Regions from separate parts of the Homo sapiens genome. Here region 2 is linked to region 1. The links come from fine-mapping of genetic effects on gene expression. A gene starts in region 1. The other region holds a variant in brackets. All regions are shown on one strand. Distances are from middle to middle.

Region 1 (12,852 bases):
GCCAGCCTTCAGGATTTTTTTCCCATTTTACTACATTCACTTTTGTCCAAATCAACATTTGGCCTAACTTCTCATATAGAATACCTTGCCTTCAAGTAAATTTATTCCAAATTACTTCAGATAAAATCATACGCTTTCTGGACTAGAAGCTTGACTGAGTGCTTTGTGCTATATTATGCTTCTTTCTATTAATATACCACTCCACGTTAACACATGCTCAACTGTTGATGCACTGTCATTTATAAAAGTCTTTCAGATGAGTTCTAAAAATAAATATAAGAGAAAATTAAATTTTAAACTGGAAAAAATAGGTAAGAACAAAATAGGGTAAGAAAGTGAGATATAGTGAGATGAACATACAAAATCTATGCCACAAATTCATATATACTCACTTGCTAAAGGTATAGTATACATTCATCTTAAAATAATGCTGAAAGCCACAATTTACTGCTTAAAAACAAACTAGTTGCAGGGGAAAAAGTTATTCCCGGTAAAGTTATAAGACAATTTTTCTAAAGCCATCATAAAGAAGATAGGATATAATGTAATGAATAACCTCCTGAATGTAAAAATAATAAACAGTTTCATGGGGCAGTCTTTTACACTCAATATAAATATATGACATTACAACAAACATTGATAGATTTTGTGTGACACCAATAAAATGTAGCCCTGGCATTCAGCTTTCTAATAGTCTGGCTGCTACAGAAACAAGCTTTTTGTGCGTCTTTTAAGAAGTGGTTCTATCATGGGCAATACTACCTTCTAGGTAACATCTAGAAATGCATGGATGTGCTTCTGTTTGTCATAATGTCTAGGGTTCTGATAACGGACATTCAGTGCCCAGGGTCCAGGGTTGCTAAATATATTCCTCAATTCCGAGAGAGTACCTCATAAGTAAGAACTGTTGTTCTCAAGATAACAGTATCACAACCTCTCCTGCCTTGAGAAATACTGATCTAGAATTTTGAATTTCAAGCTATGCTCCACAGAAATGACTCATAAGCTATCATATGTGTGAGATGTGTGAGTCTGCATATCATGTGTGTGTGTGTGTGTGTATATATATATCTGTGTGTGTTAGTGTTTGGGAAGTAAGAGGGGGTGCGTCTGCCTCCCTAGACTGACCAGAGCAGCTCCATTTTTACCTGTTTTGTATATTAGACATCCGAATAAGAAAGACATAGTTTAAACAAGAAGGAAAAATATAAATTTATTCATCAGAATCCCAGGGTGGCTTAGAAAAAGGAATCTTAGAAGAAGCAGCTATGGGAGAGAAGCAGAAGCACATCCATGCATTTATGTTGCCTAGCAGGTGGCACTGCCCCTGATAGTTAGAATCACTTCTTAAAACACATAAAAATATTATTTCTGCAGCAGCCAAACCATTAGAGTGCTGAATTCCAGGGCAGTATTTTATTGATATCACATAAAACATTGTCAGGGGTTGGAGGTTAAGTGGGAGGCTGCAGAAGATAGAGATGTGGTAGGGTGGAAATGGAAGACAGAATGAGAGAAGAAAGGACATGGCAGAAATAAAGTTCTTACAATGAAATCACCTTTTCCCCTATATCTTTAGAAAAATAAACTCACAAAAGGCTTGGCTGTTGTATTAATTATCTAATTTGTATAACAAATCACTCCAAAACTCACTGCCATTTATTATCTCTCACAGTTCCTCTGGGTTAGGAATTTGTTAGTGGCATGGCTGGGTATAACTGGCTCATGGTTTCTCATGAAGTTGCAGTCAAATGGCAGCTGCAGGTTCAGTCAGTCAGTCAGCTAGTCATCTAAGTTCAGTCAGTCCTGTCCTCTAAAGAGTTGACTAGGATTGTAGGATCCACTTCCAGGGTGGTTTGTTCACTACACGGCTGTCAAGTAAACACTGGCTGTTGTAGCAGGCCTCAGTTCCTCTTCATGTGGACGTCTCCTCAGAGCTTCCTGTGTGCTCTCATGGAGGCTGGCTTCCCCCAGAGAGAACAATCCAAGAAACCAAGATGAAAGCTTAAATGCCTTTATACCTAGCCTTGCAAAGCCTGTATCATTACTTTACTGCCACCACATTTTATTGGTCATACAGAAGGGCCATGATTCAATGTGAGTAGGAGCTACAAAAGGGTGTGAATGTCAAGAGGCAAAGATTATTGGGAGCATCTTAGAGGCTGGCTACCACAGCCATAGTACTTTTTATATGCTTGTTTGTGTATCTGTCTGTATGTTAGTGGAAGTGAACAAATCCAGGAGCAGAAGTAGACACAGAGTTAATTCTTTGTATTTACTGTTGAATTCAATTTTCTAATATTTTGTTGAGGCTATTTGGATATATTTTCATGAGAGAGACTGGTCTGTAGTTTTCTTTTCTTATAATGTCCTTGTCTTATTTTGGCATTAGGGTAATGCTGGCCTGAAAGAATGAGTTAGGAAGTATTTCCTCTGCTTCTATCTTCTGAAAGAAACTTGCAGATAATTGATATAATTTCTTCCTTAAATGTTTGGTAAAATTCACCAGTGAACCTATCTGGGCCTGGTACTTTCTGTTTTGGAAGGCTATTAATTATTGATTCCATTTCTTTAATAGTTATAGGTCTATTCAGATTATCTATTTTCTCCTTTGTGAGTTTTGGCAGTGGTTATTGTTTTTAATTGAAATTCCTTTAAGGCATTAGACCAGTTGACACATAACCTGAAGTCTATGTGTTCAATCAGAAACATACCTCAAATGTAAGAGACAGGTGGGGCTGTGTGCTTTCCTGTTTGGCAAAATATCTATTATATTTTTGTATCAATGTAATAGAGTTCAAATATAATAAATCATGGCTACTTCTTGGCTAGTACATTGATCACAAGTTGTTTATATTTGGGGGCCTACTGAGATTATTATCCATGGGTACCATTATGTTTAAATTAGACTCTAAATGAGTATCCTGAAAATCTCAAAATCTGTATAGACTGTTAGCTATTAGCAAAGCATTACTTCTGTTTACACAACTCTCCCTATATACATTATCATCTATACTCCTAGGGACTGCTATATCTCTTGGTACCACTAGCTTCCTATCCAATATTCACTCTTCCATTGTTTTATTAAAGCAACCCTAATTTTGTTTGGAGCAGCAAAGTCTCTGGCTAAAAAACATTTCTCCTGAAGCTTTCTTTGCAACTATGAGTTCTAGCTAAAGCTTAGTAGGGGATGTTGGTAAAGTTTACTTTCATGATAGAGGCACAGTACCTTCTTCCTTGTCCCTTCCCAATTTCTTTTACCTCCCTGGATGATAGACATAAGAATGGTGATAGAGCAGTCACCTTGCTATCAAGAGATGACCAGGAAGATGAAAACCACATACAAAGATGATGGGACACAAAGACAGAAGCCTGGAACATTTATGGCATTAGAGATGAACCACAGTCAAGTTGTTGGAGACGAGTTTCTGTTATATTCCATCAAATACAATCCTAGGATATCTCACACCTTCCTGAAAACCCTAGTTCAAACCTATTTCTTCAGTAAGCCTTCTGGGATGTAATAATAATAACTCTTGCATGGGACTTTATTGTTTGCAAAGTACTTTCACATACTTTATATCTTTCGATATTCACATCAGTCCTGTGGCCAGAATACCCTTCTCTTCATATTCTCACCTCTCTGGAGTTGATGCCATCCATCCCTATACTGTAAACCACACTGTAGAACAATGACTCCCAAGCAGCTGCCTCCAATCTTGACCTCTCTTGAGCTCTAGATTTGTTTTCCAACTGAATTCTGGGCACCCAGCTCAAAGACGAGTACTTGAAACATCTAAACTGTGTATAACTTAACCTGTTATTTTCTCATTTCAGGTCCCTAAACACTGCTCTTAATCCAGTATTATTTTAATAAATCTCAGTTAATATAATCACTCAAACTGACAAGCTAGAAATTTCAGAGTTATCCTCAATTCCATGCTCTCTATAACTTCCCAAAACAATCAGGAATCAAATCCTAGATCACGGCCACTGCCATGAGATTAGGTTCTCATCATTTTTCTGGTGGACTACTGTTAAGATCATTTAACTGGCCTTCTGCAGAAAGGCATCCTAAAAGATAAATCAACTATTTTTATTTATTCATTCACCAAATAGTTAAATGACTAGTCTTCTGCAGAAAGGAACTCTAAAAAAGAAATCAATTATCTTTTATTTATTCATTCACCAGATAGGTATAGAGCACCTGCTACATAATAAATATTATAATGTTAAAAATATGGTTTCAACAAAAAAACTTGCCATGTTATAGTAAGAAGCTAGTAATCCTAAAGTCGATATAGATTTAGCAAGTGATTTATTATATTACTGTTGAAAACGCAATGAAAGTAATAGGAATAAAATAATTTACTAAGGTGGTATATTTTTTAAAGAGATTTGTTTTCTTTGGTATTGTAATGAATCAGCAGGAAACATTTTAAAGAAATGAATTCATTTGGTTTTATGGAAATATAAGCAAAAATAAAAAGTGTGATATATAGTTTAGAACATTAATTTCTAAAATACATTCTGTAAAATACTGCTTCTTGGGATGAAACTACCTCGAAAAGCTTTCTGTTGTGAAATGTTTGAGAAACCACTGGATTAGACAAAAATAAGTAGGTTTGCATATACTAAGATTTCTCAGTGTTAATATTCTCATATATACTCTACATCTCTCTGAGTAGCAGTGTGACATGTAGTACTTTAAAATTTATTGACTAAAGAAATCTTTAGAACATCATCTCCTAGAACTACATACAGGACACATTTTGGAAAATGTTAAGCATTTGTGAGCAGACACTTTACCAGGAGCTCTGGATGGACAATGAACTTCAAGACAGGAACATTTATCAAATTTATCATAACAATGAATGATTCTGATAATGAATCAGACGTTCAGCAAGAATATAGCACTACTCATTAAGATCATAAGGGTCCATGCAGAATAGGTCTTAGTGAAATAAAAATCTGCTACCTTCAATCAAGTATGTATGTGGATTACCCAAACCAAGAATGTTTATACTTTAAAGAGAAATGTTTCAGCTCATGAAATGGCTCCAGCAGTCTGCCTGGGTGCTTGGCAGTTCATCTGCAACCTGGCACAGACCCAGATTTCTTTTTTTAGTTTTACTATTAATTCTTCATGTATTTTTTTAAAGTTCCAATAAAAATGAGGTTGAAACTGTATACTTTAAAAGACAATTTCTGAAAAACAGATAATATTAAAATTATATCAAGACTTTGGAAAGGTAACATGCATTAGAGAATATAAGATTTAGACTCTAACCTGAGGAAGCAAATTATTTGACCAACCAAATGATAGAATTTGTTCAGACATACTGTTAAGATGGTAAGGTAAATAAGAGACTCTTACTACAGTCTTATCCCCTCCTAGAAATTTTTCTAATAGACAACTTGGATATTTTTCTCAAGATTAACGGCTTTTAAAAATTGTTTTATTACACATCTCCAATATACCCCCCTCTCTCTTTCACACACACACACACACACACACACACACACAGAGCGCCAAATTTTTGAACCTTCTCTTTTGAAGTCCAAGAGTCTTCATACTAAATAAATAATAAATAAATAAAAATCAAAAAGGTGCAATTTCACCAACCACAGAGGATGTGTGAAGACTGGTCTTCTGAATTCAAGGTTGCCCCAGGATAAGCGAGTCCAGGGGAGATTAAATGAATTTCCCTATTCATAGCAATAAGAAAGTTCCCACCTCCTTTATTCTCCCCAACAAAAAAGCTTCCCCTATCAAACGACCTGGTGGCTTTTCCAGGATGGACTGCTTAGACTCTTAGGAGGGGCCCAGATAGCAGGCCCAGCCTGGGGTTGCGAGTAGTGTTTCTTCTAACAAAGCTATGGCACCCTGAGAAAGGAGGCTCAGTATTCCCCTGTGAGGATCTTTGTGGGTCTTTCAGTTGCCCTAGGATGGTGAATATGACAATAACCTGAGCTCCCAAATCATCTGAAGCAGGACCTCTTAATCACTCACCGCTGCGCTCTGAGCCGCTGGGAACCAAGGCTGGTTGCTAAGGACGCTGTGGGAGTCGCTCTGAGACAGACGTTGCTCTTTTACGGTCTCGTGACCAGGGCTTAGCCAATCAGGACTTATAAGTGAATTTCCACCTGCCCTGTCCCGTCTCCACCACATTTGTGTTCAATTTCTAAAGAATAAATGCAATGTTGTGTGAAAGACCTTTATTCGTTTTTAAAGAACATAGTAATGATTTGTTTCGAATATTGTACATACTTGCATATCCTGCAAGAAGCCACGGCAAGAAGCGGCTTCACAGTGCTTTAATGTCTCCTCAGTGTCTTAATGCTGCTTCCCCAAAACAAACCAGCACGCCTATCATACCAAAAGTAGCTATGTCTTTAAATTAAATTGCCGTTCGTAAGTTCCTTTTACATAGAAAATTTGGAGCAGTCAGTGTCCTCAGCACCCGTCAGTGAGTAAACAAAGCACCTAGAATGTTCTGCTATGTACTAAACACCAGAGGGCGAATTTAAACACAAAAGAACGCCTCTTTTTAAAGGTAGTATGCAATAGAATTATCTAATATAAGTCCTTTAAAAATCCTTGTAGAATTCCTATGTCTACTAACGAGCAACTGTATATATTTTACAAAGGTTCACCAGTGTAAAATACTATATGGAAGAATGGGGAAGGGCATTTATGATTAAATTCATACGTAGGCCGGGCGCAGTGGCTCATGCCTGTTATCCCAGCACTTTGGGAGGCCAAGGTGGGCGGATCACGAGGTCAGGAGTTCGAGACCATCCTGGCTAACATGGTGAAACCCGTCTCTACTAAAAATACAAAAGTTAGCCAGGCGTGGTGGCACCCACCTATAATCCCAGCTACTCAGGAGGCTGAGGCAGGAGAATTGCTTGAACCCAGGAGATGGAGGTTGCAGTGAGCCGAGATCATGCCACTGCACCCCAGCCTGGGAAACAGAGCGAGATTCCATCTAAAGAAAAAAAAAATACTAAAACGTAATATACAGGGATTGTCCTGTGAAATGACCTGCCTTTAAAAATTAGAACTTTGAAAGAAAATTTAACTTGAACTACTTCGATTCGGAATTAAGTTTTTTTGTTTTTTGAGTGCATTTTTATGTTTAAAACAGAAATTACAATATGTGATCTCAGGCTTCTCTGACGTATCACTCCTAGAAGATCAGTAAGTTAAAGGTAATAATGAAAAGTGAAATTGACAAAGACTATAAACTACATATGTGAGAGAACAAATCCTAGAATATCAACAGTGCTTACCATAATCCAGATAAAATAAAAATGAAAAGACTGTGGTATTTAATAATAGCCTGGGGGCTTGCTTGTTTTAATTTCAAGAGATCTAGAAAAGTGTTAAAAGCATAAAAAAATACAAACTGTTAACCAGGTTATTCATAATCAAATGAAGATTGAATTAAAAAGGAATAAAAGGAAGGCCGAATAAAAAATTCTTCTCCATAATATAAGAATCAGTTGAAACTATAGCATGTTTAGAGAAAAAAAGTCACCCCATCGATTCTACAGTGAAGACAACAGAACAAGTTTATATAAGGAAGAATTCACAAATACATATATATATATATTACACATATCTACTTATTCTAAATATATCTACTGATTTTATATATGTATCTACTGATTTTATTTATATATATATCAGTAGAATGAAAGATTACAGAAAAAGCATAAAATTTATATATGATAAATTTGCCATTTTAACTCAGTGGGGAAAAACTGTACAGAGGCTGAGCACAATTTGAAAGAAAATAAATCTGAACTACTATCTCATACCATAGCAACAATAAATCTCAGAGGAATGAAGCTTAAAACAGGAAATAATTTTAAATAATTTTAAGATAATATTGGTATAACCTTAGAGTCACAATAATATTAAGCTAATAGGAGACCCACAATGATTTTAAAAAATGACAAGAATATTTAGAAAATTTATGTAAGAAAAATAAATCTAATAAAGTCATACCTCCCCTTTCTCCCTTTAATTAGTCATCTACATTGAAGTTTTGACAAGACAAATCTAATTTTTTCAAATTATTATATATATACCTATATATATATAATCCTAAAATGGCCATTAATTAGCAATTAGGAAAATAAGCATGTCAAAACCATCCTAACCCCTTAGTATGGCACAATTATGCTTTCAGAAACTATATCATTGCCTACTTGCCCAGTTTTTTTCTGCTTTTTTTTTTTTTACCAGTCTTTTTTATTTTATTTTATTATTATTTTTTGAGATGAAGTCTCGCTTTTGTCCCCCAGGCTGGAGTGCAATGGAGCGATCTCAGCTCATTGCAACCTCCACCTCCTGGGTTCAAGCGATTCTCCTGCCTCAGCCTCCCGAGTACCTGGGATTACAGGCGCCTGCCACCACGCCTGGGTAATTTTTGTATTTTTGGTAGAGACAGGGTTTCACCATGTTGGCCAGGCTGATCTCGAACTCCTGACCTCAGGTAATCCACCCACCTTGGCATCCCAAAGTGCTGGGATTAAAGGCGTGAGCCACCGTGCCTGGCCCAGTCTTCTTTATTTTTAAAACTTTTTCCACTGCTATGTAATCAATTAAAAAATATTTTAAGTTTCCTAAACATATCATGAGCTCTCGTTTCTTAATAACCTCATGCATGCTCTTCCTCTGTCTGAAAATATACTTGCCCACTCACTCCTCAACTGCTGCCACAAACTCACACAAACGCATACCACCCCCTGCTCCCTAATAACCACACACCAGGTAAATGCTTACTCTTGATCAAGACTCGGATGTTAGACATTTGTCAACATTTTGGATCTGGAGAATCCAATCACCCTTCCATGCTACCTGGGGAATTCTTCATGTAATATGAATGGGAAGTGGTGTTTCATCATCCACTACAAAAGCCAAAAACGGCAGATTATATTTTCTCAGAACTCTGTGTTGGAATATGACAGAAGTTTGGCCAAGTATGTGTTCTAGTTTAAGAATTTGAATTTTTAGCAGATAATATCAAGATGAAAGTAGCAATAACTGTGCCTTGGGCCATGATAGCAGCACCCTTACAGATTTTCCTGCCAAAAGACAGTTGTGGTACCTCCTGCTTCTTGGTCCTCTAGAACAGCATTTTTTTTTCCTGTCCATTTCAATCCTTGACTTACAGCCTTCCATCAATTCTATAAACCCTGATTATCCTGTCAAATCTTCTGTTTAAAGTAACAAATTGAGTTTCTGTTATCTTCAACCAAAGTGACACATTCACCTGGGAAGACACCTCATTTTAGAAGCCTTCCAACGCAATGACTGTTCTCTCAGGATAACTTAGAAGACATCCTTCAATGTTTCCTTAGCATTCTGAGTGCTCTTATATAGCACTTATCAAAATTTTACCTAGAGAAATCTACCTAGTGAGTACTCATTAAAAAGTCAGGAAAGAGATGAAACTATTAGTAAGTTACACAATTTAAAATATGCATTATATTTTCTTCAATCATATTTCTCAAACCTTAAGCTTCAGTCCTCCAGTTGCTTGGAATCAAGGCTATTAGCATCTTCACTGACACGATTCAAATTAGTCCATAATACTGCAATTACCTTCCTAGATTAGAATTGATTTTCCAGGGAAAACAATCTGACACCAAAAGTGAATCATAGGAAAAAACTATAGCCATGAAAAAATATTTATCAGTTTGAACTGTTGCATTAGAATTAATATTGATTTTGTAATTTAACAACTTTCTAGATGACAATTTCTTAACTATTTTTGATATTATGTGATATCAGTTTAGTTTTGCCATGGAGTGTATAACTTAATTGTAAATAATTTCTATTTGATACTGTATTAGTTTGTTTTCATGCTGCTGATAAGTACATACCCAAAACTGGGAACAAAATGAGGTTTAATTGGACTTACAGTTCCACATGGCTAGGGAGGCCTCAGAATCATGGCGGGAGGTGAAAGGCACTTCTTACATGGTGAAAGCAAGATAAAAATGAGGAGGAAGTAAAAGCAGAAACCCCTGATAAACCCATTAGATCTTGTGAGACTTATTCACCATCACGAGAATAGCACAGGAAAGACTGGCCCCCATGATTCAATTACCTCCCCCAGGTCCCTCCTACAATACACGGGAATTCTGGGAGATATAATTCAAGTTAAGATTTGGGTGGAGACACAGCCAAACCAGATCATTCTGCCCCTGGCCCCTCCAAATCTCATGTCCTCACATTTAAAAACCAATCACGCCTTCCCAACAGTACCCTAAAGTCTTAACTCATTTCAGCATTAACCGAAATGTCCACAGTCCAAAGTCTCATCTGCAACAAGCCAAGTCCCTTATGCCTATGAGCCTGTAAAATCAAAAGCAAGCTAGTTACTTCCTAGATACAAAGGGGGTTCAGGTATTGGGTAAATACAGCCATTCCAAATGGAAGAAATTGGCCAAAACAAAGGGGTTACAGGGCCCATGCAAGTCTGAAATCCACTGGGGCAGTCAAATTTTAAAGCTCCAAAATGATCTCCTTTGATGCCAGGTCTCACCTCCAGGTCATGGTCTTCGGCAGCTCCACCCCTGTGGCTGTGCAGGTTATAGCCTCCCTCCTGGCTGCTTTCATGGGCTAGCATTGAATGTCTGCAGCTTCTCCAGGTGCACAGTGCAAGCTGTTGGTGGACCTAACATTCTGGGGTCTGGAGGATGGTGGCCCTCTTCTCATAGCTCCAATAGTCAGTACCCCAGTAGGGACTCTGTGTGGGGGCTCTTGCCCCACCTTTCCCTTCCACACTGCCCTAGCAGGGGTTCTCCATGAGGGCCCCACCCCTGCAGCAGACTTTTGCCTGGGCACCCAGGTGTTTCCATACATCTTCGGAAATCTAGGCAGAGGTTGCCAAACCTCAATTCTTGACTTCTGTGCACCTGCAGGCTCAACACCACATGGAAGCTGCTAAGGCTTAGGGTTTCCACCCTCTGAAGCCACAGCCCAAGCTCTACACTGGCCCCTTTCAGCCATGGCCGGAGCAGCTGGGACACAGGACACCAAGTCCCTAGGCTGCACACAGCATGGGGACTCTGGGGCCAGCCCACAAAACCACTTTTTCCTCCTGGGCCTCTAGGCCTGTGATGGAAGGATGCCATGAAAGTCTCCAACATGGCCTGGAGACATTTTCCCCATGGTCTTGGGGATTAACATTAGGCTCCTTGCTTCCTATGCAAATTTCTGTGGCCAGCTTGAATTTCTCCTCAAAAAATAGGTTTTTCTTTTCTACTGCATCATCAGGCTGCAAATTTTCTGAACTTTTATGCTCTGTTTCCCTTTTAAAATTGAATGCTTTTAACAGCACCCAAGTCACCTTTTGAATGCCTCGCTGCTTAGAAATTTCTTCCACTAGATACTGTAAATCATCTCTCTCAAGTTCAAAGTTCCACAAATCTCTAGGGCAAAGGCAAAATGCCACTAGTCTCTTTGCTGAAATATAACAAGAGTCACCTTTGTCCCAATTCCGAAGAAGTTCCTCATATTCATCTGAGACCACCTCAGCCTGGACCTTATTATTCATATCATTATCAGCATTTTGTCAAAGCCACTGACAAGTCTCTAAGAGGTTCCAAACTTTCCCATATTTTCCTGTCTTCTTCTGAGCCCTCCAAACTATTCCAACTTCTGCCTATTACCCAGTTCCAAAGTCGCTTCCACATTTTTGGTTATCTTTTCAGCAACGTCCTACTCTATTGGTACCAACTCACTGTATTAGCGCATTTTCATGCTGCTGATAAAGACATACCCAAAACTGGGAACAAAAAGAGGTTTAATTGGACTTACAGTTCCACATGGCTGCAGAGGCCTCAGAATCATGGCAGGAGGTGAAAGGCACTTCTTACATGACAGTGGCAAGAGAAAAATGAGGAATAAGAAAAAGCGGAAACCCCTGATAAGCCCATCAGATTTTGTGAGACTTATTCACTATCAAGAGAATAGCATGGGAACGACCAGCTCCCATGATTCAATTACCTCCCCCTGGGTCCCTCCCACAACATGTGTGAATTCTGGGAGATACAATTCAAGTTGAGATTTGGGTGGGGACACAACGAACCATATCAGATACCTCTCTTCATGTTGCCAAATATTTAGAGTTCTCATTAGGATTTTTAAATGCTACTGGGAATAAATGGAACAGTATCTGAAATTTTTATTTGTCAAAAAGAGAAAGGAAAGCTAATCAAATGTAAAATAATAGCAGAGAAAACAGACAACATACAGAATGAGAGAAAATATTTGCAAACTGTGTACCTGACAAAAGTCTAATATCCAGTATCTACAAGGAACTTAAACAAATATATATGAAAACAACAAACAATTTCACTAAATAATAGGCAAAGGACATGAACAGAAACTTTTCAAAAGAAGACATACATGTGGCCAACATGTATATGAAAAAAAGCTCAACATCACTGATCATCAGCGAAATGCAAATCAAAAGCACAATGAGTTCCCATCTCATGCCAGTCAGAATGGCTATTATTAAAAAGTAAAAAATAATAATAATAATAACAACAGATGCTGGTGAGGTTTGCAGTGAAAAGGGAACAAACTCTTACATACCGTTGGGTGGGAGTGTAAATTAGTTCAACCACTGTGGACAGCAGTGCGTTGGTTCCTCAAAGAGCCAAAATCAGAACTACCACTTGACCCAGAAATCCCATTACTAGGTATATAACCAAAGGAATATAAATCATTCTACAATAAAGACACATGCACAGGTATGTTCATTGCACCACTATTCACAATAGCAAAGACACGGAATCAACCTAAATGCCCATCACTGCCCATAA
Region 2 (12,852 bases), 440 kb before region 1:
GGGCCGGGCGCAGTGGTTCATGCCTGTAATCCCAGAACTTTGGGAGGCCGAGGCGGGAGGATCAGGAGGTCAGGAGATCGAGACCATCCTGGCTAACATGGGGAAACCCCGTCTCTACTAAAAATGCAAAAACAAAGCCAGGCGTGGTGGTGGGCACCTGTAGTCCCAGGTACTCGGGAGGCTGAGGCAGGAGAATGACTTGAACCTGGGAGGCGGAGCTTGCAGTGAGCCGAGATCGCGCCACCGCACTCCAGCCTGGGAGACAGAGCGAGACTCCGTCTCAAAAAAAACAAAAAAAGCTTATTATAAGAAACAGATGTAATGACAATAAATTATTAGGAAAAGTTAGTGGATTGAGATGTAACACCAATTGTCAAATTGTAGTTGATTTGAAACTATAGGTTGATCAAAGATAGAAGAGTTTGGTAAAAATCAACAAAAACATTTTTTTTTTTAGAGAATTAGTTGGCTATATGGGACTTACAATAAAGAGTACTGTATATTTCATTAATATTTGTAAATAAGGGGCTATCAATCTGCTGTCGCACTGGTATAAAGAAATACCTGAGACCGGGTAATTATAAAGAAAAGAGGTTTAATTGGCTCATGGATCTGCCACCAACAGGAAGCATGGCTGAGGAAGCCTCAGGAAACTTTCAATCATGGCAGAAGGCAAACGGAAAGCAGGTACTTTTTACATGACTGGAGATGAAGGAAGAGAGAATCAGGGGAGGTGCCACACTTTTAAACAACCAGATCTTGTGGGAACTCTATCACAAGTCAGCATGAAGGGGATGGTGCTAAACCATTAGAAACCACCTCCATGATCCAATCACCGCCCACCAGGCCCCACCTCCAACACTGGGGATTACAATTCTACACGAGATCTGGGCATGGACACAGATCCAAACCGTATCAATGAGCTACACATCATTCATGTCAGTAAAATTTACAATAAGGTTACATTTATATGTTTTTATATATTACGTCAATATATACATTTATATTGTGTGTACGCACATTTTCCTCCCTGAAGACTCAGTCATTAAACGTTTACCAGCAAACTGCTGCACTCATCTCTCACTACAGCCAGGTGTAACTCCCAGCACTATTCTGAATGTTCTCTTACATCTCTCTCACCTCCTTGCCGTTTCTTCTCCCTCCTCTCCTTTTCCCGCCCAACCTTTGCTTGCACACATCTTATTTCTTACAAACTCACCTCAGCTGTCATGTTCTTCAGGAATTGTTTCCTGGTCGTTTTCACCCTTAGCTTCCCAGAATGAGTTAGGTGTCCTTCCTATATGCCCCCACAGATGCCTTGGGGGCTAACTGCTATTCTGGTTTTCAGGTTTAGTATTGACTCGCTTTTTGTTACGGTTTTATTGTTGGCCCTCTATATCTGTAGGTCCTGCATCTACAAATTCAACCAACTCTAGATAAAAAATATACATTTTTTAAATAATAAAAAGTAACAATGAAAGAATAAAAATATAACAATTATTTACATGGCATTTGCCTTGTATTTGAAGCATTATAAATAATGTAGAGATAATTTATAGAGGAACTTCAGTATCTGTGCATTTGGGTATGGGGGGGGTGGGCAGTGTCCCGGAACCAATACCTTGGGGATACTGAGGAATGGCTGTAATACATTTAAATATATATTTAAAAAAGAATGCTTTGAAATTTATGTAAACTATAAGATATTTATGTATTCTTCTAAATCTTGCTTTCTACTCAACATTTTGTGTCTGAGATTCATCCATATTGAGACCTATAGCTACAGCACATTTATTTTCACTTCAGACTGGCATATCATTGTATGATATACCACAATTCATCCATTCTCTGCCTACAGACACTTAAGGATGTTCCCATAAGTTTGTCACTATTGAAAGCATTTAACTATTAGAAGCATGAACATTATGACGTGTATTTCCTAGTTGTCTTTTATTTATTTATTTATTTATTTATTTATTTATTTATTATTATTATACTTTAAGTTTTAGGGTACATGTGCACAATGTGCAGGTTAGTAACATATGTATACATGTGCCATGCTGGTGTGCTGCACCCATTAACTCCTCATTTAGCATTAGGTATATCTCCTAATGCTATCCCTCCCCCCTCCCCATACCCCACAACAGTCCCCAGAGTGTGATGTTCCCCTTCCTGTGTCCATGTGTCCTCATTGTTCAATTCCCACCTATGAGTGAGAACATGCGGTGTTTGGTTTTTTGTCCTTGCGATAGTTTGCTGAGAATGATGGTTTCCAGTTTCATCCATCTCCCTACAAAGGACATGAACTCATCCTTTTTTATGGCTGCATAGTATTCCATGGTGTATATGTGCCACATTTTCTTAATCCAGTCTATTGTTGTTGGACATTTAGGTTGGTTCCAAGTCTTTGCTATTGTGAATAGTGCCGCTACAAACATACATGTGCATGTGTCTTTATAGCAGCATCATTTATAATCCTTTGGGTTTATACCCAGGAATGGGATGGCTGGGTCAAATGGTATTTCTAGTTCTAGATCCCTGAGGAATCGCCACACTGTCTTCCACAATGGTTGAACTAGTTTACAGTCCCACCAACAGTGTAAAAGTGTTCCTATTTCTCCACATCTTCTCCAGCACCTGTTGTTTCCTGACTTTTTAATGATCACCATTCTAACTGGTGTGAGATGGTATCTCATTGTGGTTTTGATTTGCATTTCTCTGATGGCCAGTGATGATGAACATTTTTTCATGTGTTTTTTGGCTGCATAAATGTCTTCTTTTGAGAAGTGTCTGTTCATATCCTTCACCCACTTCTTGATGGGGTTGTTTGTTTTTTTCTTGTAAATTTGTCTGAGTTCATTGTAGATTCTGGATATTAGCCGTTTGTCAGATGAGTAGGTTTCTCCCATTTTGTAGGTTGCCTGTTCACTCTGATGGTAGTATCTTTTGCTGTGCAGAAGCTCTTTAGTTTAATTAGATCCCATTTGTCAATTTTGTCTTTTGTTGCCATTGTTTTTGGTGTTTTAGACACAAAGTCCTTGCCCATGCCTATATCCTGAATGGTATTGCCTACGTTTTCTTCTAGGGTTTTTATGGTTTCAGGTCTAACATGTAAGTCTTTAATCCATCTTGATTTAATTTTTGTGTAAGGTGTAAGGAAGGGATCCAGTTTCAGCTTTCTACATATGGCTAGCCAGTTTTCCCAGCACCATTTATTAAATAGGGAATCCTTTCCCCATTGCTTGTTTTTGTCAGGTTTGTCAAAGATCAGATAGTTGTAGATATGCGGCATTATTTCTGAGGGCTCTGTTCTGTTCCATTGATCTATATCTCTGTTTTGGTACCAGTACCCTGCTGTTTTGGTTACTGTAGCCTTGTAGTATAGTTTGAAGTCAGGTAGCGTGATGCCTCCAGCTTTGTTCTTTTGGCTGAGGATTCACTTGGCAATGCGGGCTCTTTTTTGGTTCCATATGAACTTTAAAGTAGTTTTTTCCAATTCTGTGAAGAAAGTCATTGGTAGCTTGATGGGGATGGCATTGAATCTATAAATTACCTTGGGCAGTATGGCCATTTTCACGATATTGATCTTCCTATCCGTGAGCATGGAATGTTCTTCCATTTGTTTATATCCTTTTATTTCATTGAGCAGTGGTTTGTAGTTCTCCTTGAAGAGGTCCTTCACGTCCCTTGTAAGTTGGATTCCTAGGTATGTTATTCTCTTTGAAGCAATTGTGAATGGGAGTTCACTCATGATTTGGCTCTCTGTTTGTCTGTTATTGGTGTATACGAATGCTTGTGATATTTGCACATTGATTTTGTATCCTGAGACTTTGCTGAAGTTGCTTATCAGCTTGAGGAGATTTTGGGCTGAGACGATGGAGTTTTCTAGATACACAGTCATGTCATCTGCAAACAGGGACAATTTGACTTCCTCATTTCCTAACTGAATACTTTTATTTCCTTCTTCTGCCTGATTTCCCTGGCCAGAACTTCCAACACTATGTTGAACAGGAGTGGTGAGAGAGGGCCTCCCTGTCTTGTGCCAGTTTTCAAAGGGAATGCTTCCAGTTTTTGCCCATTCAGTATGATATTGGCTGTGGGTTTGTCATAGATAGCTCTTGTTATTTTTGAAATACGTCCCATCAATACCTAATTTATTGAAAGTTTTTAGCATGAAGGGTTGTTGAATTTTGTCAAGGCCTTTTCTGCATCTATTGAGATAATCATGTGGTTTTTGTCTTTGGTTCTGTTTATATGCTGGATTATGTTTATTGATTTGAATATGTTGAACCAGCCTTGCATTCCAGGGATGAAGCCCACTTGATCATGGTGGATAAGCTTTTTGATGTGCTGCTGGATTCGATTTGCCAGTATTTTACTGAGGATTTTTGCATCGATGTTCATCAAAGATATTGGTCTAAAATTCTCTTTTTTTGTTGTGCCCTGCCCGGCTTTGGTATCAGGATGATGCTGGCCTCATAAAATGAGTTAGGGAGGATTCCCCCTTTTTCTGTTGATTGGAATAGTTTCAGAAAGAATGGTACCAGCTCCTCTTTGTACCTCTGGTAGAATTCGGCTGTGAATCCATCTGGTCCTGGACTTTGGTTGGTAAGCTATTAATTATTGCCTCAATTTCAGACCCTGTTATTGGTCTATTCAGAGATTCAACTTCTTCCTGGTTTAGTCTTGGGAGGATGTGTGTGTCGAGGAATTTATCCATTTCTTCTAGATTTTCTAGTTTATTTGCGTAGAGGTGTTTATAGTATTCTCTGATGGTAGTTTTTATTTCTGTGGGTTCAGTGGTGATATCCCCTTTATCATTGTTTATTGGGTCTATTTGATTCTTCTCTCTTTTCTTTATTAGTCTTGTTAGTGGTCTATCAATTTTGTTGATCTTTTCAAAAAACCAGTTCCTGGATTCATTAATCTTTTGAAGGGTTTTTTGTGTCTCTATTTCCTTCAGTTCTGCTCTGATCTTAGTTATTTCTTGCCTTCTGCTAGCTTTTGAATGTGTTTGCTCTTGCTTTTCTAGCTCTTTTAATTGTGATGTTAGGGTGTCAATTTTGGATCTTTCCTGCTTTCTTTTGTGGGCATTTAGTGCTATAAATTTCCCTCTACACACTGCTTTGAATGAGTCCCAGAGATTCTGGTATGTTGTGTCTTTGTTCTCGTTGGCTTCAAAGAACATCTTTATTTCTGCCTTCATTTCATTATTTACCCAGTAGTCATTCAGGAGCAGGTTGTTCAGTTTCCATGTAGTTGAGCGGTTTTGAGTGAGATTCTTAATCCTGATTTCTAGTTTCATTGCACTGTGGTCTGAGAGATAGTTTGTTATAATTTCTGTTCTTTTACATTTTGAGGAGTGCTTTACTTCCAGCTATGTGGTCAGTTGTGGAGTAGGTGTGGTGTGGTGCTGAAAAGAATGTATATTCTGTTGATTTGGGGTGGAGAGTTCTGTAGATGTCTATTAGGTCCCTTGGTGCAGAGCTGTGTTCAATTCCTGGGTATCCTTGTTAACTTTCTGTCTCATTGATCTGTCTAATGTTGACAGTGAGGTGTTAAAGTCTCCCATTATTATTGTGTGGGAGTCTAAGTCTCTTTGTAGGTCACTAAGGACTTGCTTTATGAATCTGGGTGCTCCTGTATTGGGTGCATATATATTTAGGATAGTTAGCTCTTCTTGTAGAATTGATCCCTTTACCATTATGTAATGGCCTTCTTTGTCTCTTTTGATCTTTGTTGGTTTAAAGTCTGTTTTATCGGAGACTAGGATTGCAGCCCCTGACTTTTTTTGTTTTCCATTTGCTTGGTAGATCTTCCTCCATCCTTTTATGTTTAGCCTATGTGTGTCTCCGCACATGAGATGGGTTTCCTGAATACAGCACACTGATGGGTCTTGACTCTTTATCCAATTT[G/T]CCAGTCTGTGTCTTTTAATTGGAGCATTTAGTCCATTTACATTTAAAGTTAATATTGTTATGTGTGAATTTGATCCTGTCATTATGATGTTAGCTGGTTATTTTGCTCATTAGTTGATGCAGTTTCTTCCTAGCCTTGGTGGTCTTTACAATTTGGCATGATTTTGCTGTGGCTGGTACCGGTTGTTCCTTTCCATGTTTAGCGCTTCCTTCAGGAGCTCTTTTAGGGCAGGCCTGGTGGTGAGACAATCTCTCAGCATTTGCTTGTCTGTAAAGTATTTTATTTCTCCTTCACTTATGAAGCTTAGTTTGGCTGGATATGAAATTCTGGTTTGAAAATTCTTTTCTTTAAGAATGTTGAATATTGGCCCCCACTCTCTTCTGGCTTGTAGGGTTTCTGTCGAGAGATCCGCTGTTAGTCTGATGGGCTTCCCTTTGTGGGTAACCCGACCTTTCTCTCTGGCTGCCCTCAACATTTTTTCCTTCATTTCAACTTTGGTGAATCTGACAATTATGTGTCTTGGAGTTGCTTTTCTCGAGGAGTATCTTTGTGGTGTTCTCTGTATTTCCTGAATCTGAATGCTGACCTGCCTTGCTAGATTGGAGAAGTTCTCCTGGATAATATCCTGCAGAGTGTTTTCCAACTTGATTCCATTCTCCCCGTCACTTTCAGGTACACCAATCAGACGTAGATTTGGTCTTTTCACATAGTCCCATATTTCTTGGAGGCTTTGTTCATTTCTTTTTATTCTTTTTTCTCTAAACGTCTCTTCTCACTTCATTTCATTCATTTCATCTTCCATCACTGATACCCTTTCTTCCAGTTGATAGCATCAGCTACTGAGGCTTCTGCATTCATCACATAGCTCTCATGCCTTGGTTTTCAGCTCCATCAGGTCCTTTAAGGACTTCTCTGCATTCGTTATTCTAGTTATCCATTCATCTAATTTTTTTTCAAAGCTTTTAACTTCTTTGCCATTGGTTCAAATTTCCTCCTGTAGCTCGGAGTAGTTTGATCTTCTGAAGCCTTCTTCTCTCAACTCGTCAAAGTCATTCTCCATCCAGCTTTGTTCCATTGCTGGTGAGAAACTGCATTCCTTTGGAGGAGGAGAGGCGCTCTGATTTTTAGAGTTACCAGTTTTTCTGCTCTGTTTTTTTCCCATCTTTGTGGTTTTATCTACCTTTGGTCTTTGATGATGGTGACGTACAGATTGGTTTTTGGTGTGGATGTCCTTTCTGTTCGTTAGTTTTCCTTCTAACAGACAGGACTTTCAGCTGCAGGTTTGTTGGAGTTTGCTAGAGGTCCACTCCAGATGCTGTTTGCCTGGGTATCAGCAGTGGTGGCTGCAGAACAGCAGATATTGGTGAACTGCAGATGCTGCTGTCTGATCATTCTTCTGGAAGTTTTGTCTCAGAGGAGTACCCAGCTGTGTGAGGTGTCAGTCTGCCCCTACTGGGGGGTGCCTCCCTGTTAGGCTACTTGGGAATCAGGGATCCACTTGAGGCAGTCTGCCCGTTCTCAGATCTCAAGCTGCGTGCTGGGAGAACCACTACTCTCTTCAAAGCTGTTAGAGAGGCACATTTAAGTCTGCAGAGGTTACTGCTGTGTTTTTGTTTGTCTGTGCCCTGCCCCCAGAGGTGGAACCTACAGAGGCAGGCCGGTCTCCTTGAGCTGTGGTGGGGTCCACCCAGTTCGAGCTTCCCGGCTGCTTTGTTTACCTAATCAAACAACTAACTTGGCAATGGCAGGTGCCCCTCCCCCAGCCTCGCTGCTGCCTTGCAGTTTGATCTCAGACTGCTGTGCTGGCAATGAGCGAGACTCTGTGGGTGTAGGACCCTCCAAGCCATGTGCAGGATATAATCTCCTGGTGTGCCATTTTTTAAGGCTGTTGGAAAAGTGCCGTATTAGGGTCGGAGTGACCCGATTTTCTAGGTGCTATCTGTCACTGCTTTCTTTGACTAGTAAAGGGAATTCCCTGACCCCTTGCACTTCCCGAGTGAGGCGATGCATGGCCCTGCTTCAGCTCGTGCACGGTGCACTGCACCCACTGTCCTGCACCTACTGTCTGTCACTCCCTAGTTAGATGAACTCGGTACCTTAGTTGGAAATGCAGAAATCACCCATCTTCTGCGCCGCTCATGCTGGGAGCTGTAGACTGGAGCTGTTCCTATTTGGCCATCTTGGCTCCTCCCCTAAAAGTTTTAAAAAGCTTTGCTTTTCCCCTTAAAGTCAAATCTAATTTTGGATGACAAATTCTTTCCCCAGTTCCATTGATAATATTGTCTATTCGTTCCACCCTGATTCATCATGCATCATGTTTCAATATATGCGTGGATCTACTTCAGGACTCTATTCTGGTGCACTGGTTTTATCTATATCTGTGCTAATACCATGTTATCTTAATCCTAATAATTTTTTTGAAAATCATGATATCTAGAAAGGAGAGTTTCCCTGCCTTATTCTTTTTCTGGAGTGTCTCAGTTATTTTGGACCATTTTTTATTCTATGTCCGTTTAAAATAAACTTGTCAAGTTTAATAAAATACCTGGTTGACAACTGATAGGGCTTGCATTTAATCTTTATCATAATTTTAGGAAAAGTGACATCTTTACATTATTGAATCTTCCTCTACATGGATATAAACCTCCGTTCTCTCCCCACTGCCCCTCCTCTCTGTTTCTTTATCTCTCTCATTTAGGCTTTCACTAATGTCTTCTAATAAACTTTAATAATTTTCCCCATTAAGAACTTGTAAATTTTGTTGGATTTCCACCAAGAAATATTATATCATTGTGGCTACTATAAGTAATATCTTTTTAATTTTATATTTTTAACTATTTGTGTGTGCATGTCAGCATGTGGGTTGTATTAGATCAGATAGTGATAGCTGCTCAAACAAAAAAACACCAAAGCAGTATAAGGCCTCAAATTCATTTCCTGCTCACATGACAGTATTTGGCAGGTGATCAGGATGGAAAAAGGCACTCCTTCATCCATTTCCTGGGACTCATGCTCAGTGAGATTCTGTTATCTTTGAAACATAGTTTTCCAAGTTGCCCTGAGGGATTGAATCCATTGCATCTTGACTAAGGGAAAACAGTTTGGAGGACACTGCTTCAGGCATGATAGGTCTTGGGTGCACATAGTGTTCACCGCTTCTGTTTTATCGCAGTGGACAGCACTTGGACACTGGGCCATGTTAACTGCTTGTAATAGTCCATTTTCACACTGCTGATAAAGACATACCTGAGACTGGGCAATTTATTAAAGAAAGAGGTTTAATGGACTTACAGTTCCACATGGCTGGGGTTGCCTCACAATCATGGTGGAAGTCAAGGAGGAGTAAGTCATGTCTCACATGGATGGCAACGGGCAAAGAGAGCTTGTGCAGGCAAACTCCCCTTTTTAAAACCATCAAATCTCAAGAGACTCATTCACTATCATGAGAACAGTGCAGGAAAGACCCGCCTTCCCATAATTCAATCACCTCCCGCCAGGTTTCTCCCACGACATGCAGGAATTGTGAGAGTTACAATTCAAGATGAGATTTGGGTGGGGAAACAGCCAAAACATATCACTGCTGAATGAGGGCAGGGTCAGAAATGCAGTTGAGGCCTGGAAAGCCAAATTCCAGAGATAACTCTGCATCCATGAAGTGAGGACATGCAATTCTGGTGGACAGCTACCTGTCCTTGACAAAGTCTACCCCACTGGCTTCCAAATATACTGTTGCACTTTGTGCCCACATATAGACCACTCTCCTCCTCATAAGCCTAAAATGGTTACCCCATCCAGCTCAAAGCCTACAATATCTGGGTGTTGTACTGTGCCATATGTTAGGTTTAAAGAGGCTTCATGTCCAGCAACTCAGGATCTAAAAGACAATGCCTGTCTTGAGAGGGACGCTGGGGTGCTCCATTTGGACCTCCATTCCTGATTCTAGAATGTGCTACCCCCAGCACTAGGTGTGCTGATCTCTGACAGGTATTAGCTGCCTTCTCCAACATCATGATGCCCTCTCAGGTCTAGTGACTGTTCACTGTGGGACAAAAAGACCCAGTTTTGTCAATCCACCTCAGGATAGTACTAAAGGCACATTCCATCTTTATGTTTGGAGCTCTCCATGGGGTAGCTGAAACTTGCACTGAGGCTGTATCACAGACCTACTTCTCCATCTTCTTAGTCCTATTTTTTTGGCTTCTCTTCACAGATGTTCACAAGAACATTCTCTTGCAAACCCCCTGCTATTAATCTCTGTGATACAGTTTGCTTCTTGCTTCCTGTGACATTACCAAATAGCAGAATCAGGATTTAATTAAAGAACTTGTTCTACTGTTAGATAAGGGACCTCAGAAGGCTTGTTCTGATAGTTACTTCATTGCCACAGATTAATGTCTCTGGCGTATTTCTCATTCTTCCCTCTTCTAGATGGACCTGTTCACTGCTATTATCCACTTCCCATTGTACCATTGTTTTCTGGGCTGTCTTTGATAGAGGTGGGTGAGGGTGTGACCATAAAGCATTAGCAGGAGGAAATTTCTGTGGGGTAAAGAAATTTCTGTCCTATTTTCTCGTTATGGTGGTAGTTACATGAATGTATCCATGTGATAATATTTCATAAACCCTAAATTAATTAAAAGAAAGATTATGTAAAAATTTGTGAAATCTTAATAAGGTCTATTGTTTAGTTAATAGCATTATGTCAAATATACTTCCTTGTTTTGATCATTTTATTATAGTTACATAAAATGTTATTTGCAGAAGCTGGGTGAAGGGTACACAGGAGCTCTTGGGGATATTTTTTGAAACCTATACATGAGACTGGAATTATTTCAGAATCAAACTTTTTTTAAATCTTATTCATTGTTTTTAAACTTAGGTTCATGGTGGACGTTACTTAAATAATGAGGGAGAAAACCATCTATTTCCACACTCTTGGTTTGTATAAAAGGAGCCTGAGACTGATGGAATGAAAGAGGCTACTGACTTCATTTCTCTCAGTCAGTTGCCACCAGGGGATATTTACTACATGTAAAGCATTACACTACACTTCACTTCTAGTTCTTGAGCAGCTGGGACTGTTAAGCCTCCCATAGACTAGATTTTCTATTTCTGAACTTCCCAGAGATTACAGATTTGGGGACACTGACAAATGGAAGATAGCTATAGGAGAGACCAGTGCTGCTCCCAAAGAGCTTATAGTTTCATCTGGGAAGCAGAAGAGGCCAAATGAAAGGATTTGGCCCTCCCAGGTATCACATGAAATAACTGTAAATGAGTAGATAAGTAAATAAGCAAAAAGGCAGTGAAAGTGGTGAGGAGGAAATATGAGGAAAGGACAGAATTCTAACCAAATTAATTCTAACACTTCAATGAGGCCGGTTTAGTTTTGTGGTAGAATAAGAAATGGTTGAAAATTCTTTGATATTCTTCCCATTGAGGGGTTGGGTCTCTTTCCTGTCCCCTTGATCCGGGTTGGTTTGTGACTTCTTTGACCAGGGAGATACAGTGGAAATGGTGTTATGCTCTTTCTAGGCTAGTCTTTAAGATGACTGGGCAGTTTCTTGCTCTTTTGAAACCAAAAATCTCCTTATTACAAGTTCAAATATTCTGTGGAACAGACTACATGCGAAGTAGAGGCGTCGAGTAGAGCCCAGCTTTCAGATGCCCTGCCGAGGTGTCACAGATATGGCAGAAGCTGCTTTCGACTCTCAAGATAGTCCAGCTACCAGCTGGGGACTACCTAGTGACCCAGTCAACAACTGAGGCCAGGAGAAATGCCCTGCTGAGTTCTTCCTAAACTCCTGACTCATGAAAGTGTGAGATGGTTTTGATCAGGAAATAAAAGACATGAAATAAATGATTTATTGCAGAGATTAGGTGTTATAATACTCTAAGAAACCTGGGGAAGCATAAGTCTGGAAGGGATGATTGGATGATCAGAGAAACTAATCAGGGACCACAAAGGGAAAGAAGTCTAAGAAAAGCTCTTGCTTCTGCTACTGGAGCAGGCTGTAATCACTGCGGTTACAGGATAGGCAATGGGGAAGACAAGCTGGATGTAGGCCAGGGACATAGGAACCTGCAGGGACAAATGGAATCCACAAGGACAAACTGGAACCCACGTTAGCCTCTCCCTACATCTCGCCTTGATGATGGGGAATATTGCTGGAGGATCTGAGGCCTTTTGCTGTAGAGCTGCATATGAGCCTGGAAATAAATGAAAGGAGATTAGGTGGGAGTCAAAGGGCTGCAGGCCCAATTTTCTGCTGAGTAATGCAACAAGGTGGGTTATGAAATCAGCAGCAGTGTGTAAGAGCTTTAGAGGCTCCTCCTGGGAATAACGGCTGCTGGTACACCCAAACCTCCTAATCCTATACAGATGTCCCCTGTGGCCAATCCTAACATGAACCACACAGAGAAGGGAGCTCCGAGAAGTGTAGTTCCAGCTTAGCTAAACCACAAACACCAGTTTCATATGTGAGTAATCTACTTACTATTTAGAGGCTTTAATGATGATCAGAATCAGGCTTTATGGACTTTTTGGAGGGATTGAATGACTTGGGAACACCAGAGCCTCATGTGTTTTAAGATTTAATAAACGTGAAATCAAGAGAAGCAAAGTGAATGGGTTGCTCATGGATGTTTTAATAAGCCAGAAGTATAAACAGGAATGAAAACTGAGATCCTTGGCTTTGCTTCCAGCTCCTTTCTTGACAGCAAGTTGAGGAAATTTTAAATTCATTCATCTCACTTTGTGTCTTCCTTCAGAAGCTCAGAGTTATGTAAATGGCTTCCTTTTGTGAGAGGAAGGCTTGTTGCATTAGCTATTTCCTCCTGTCAGGATTGAAAGTCACATCATTAGCAGATAACATCATTTTCATTTCTCCTCAGGGGACCTGATGGGTTGGAACTTTAGCAGAAACAGTCAGTGGA

What was found.
Region 2: its variant is fine-mapped to the expression of TMEM232 in thyroid (GTEx, PIP 0.96).

Annotation. Positions count from the first base shown.
Region 1 is chr5:110,720,614-110,733,465 of GRCh38, forward strand. It overlaps TMEM232 (transmembrane protein 232), which reads right to left and starts at 6,058. Exons shown (of 14, transcript NM_001039763.4): 1 at 6,014-6,058.
Region 2 is chr5:110,276,688-110,289,539 of GRCh38, forward strand. No RefSeq gene overlaps it. Among named protein-coding and RNA genes, the nearest start is that of MIR548F3, 230 kb to the right of the region's middle. The variant G/T (reference allele first, on the strand shown) is at 5,916.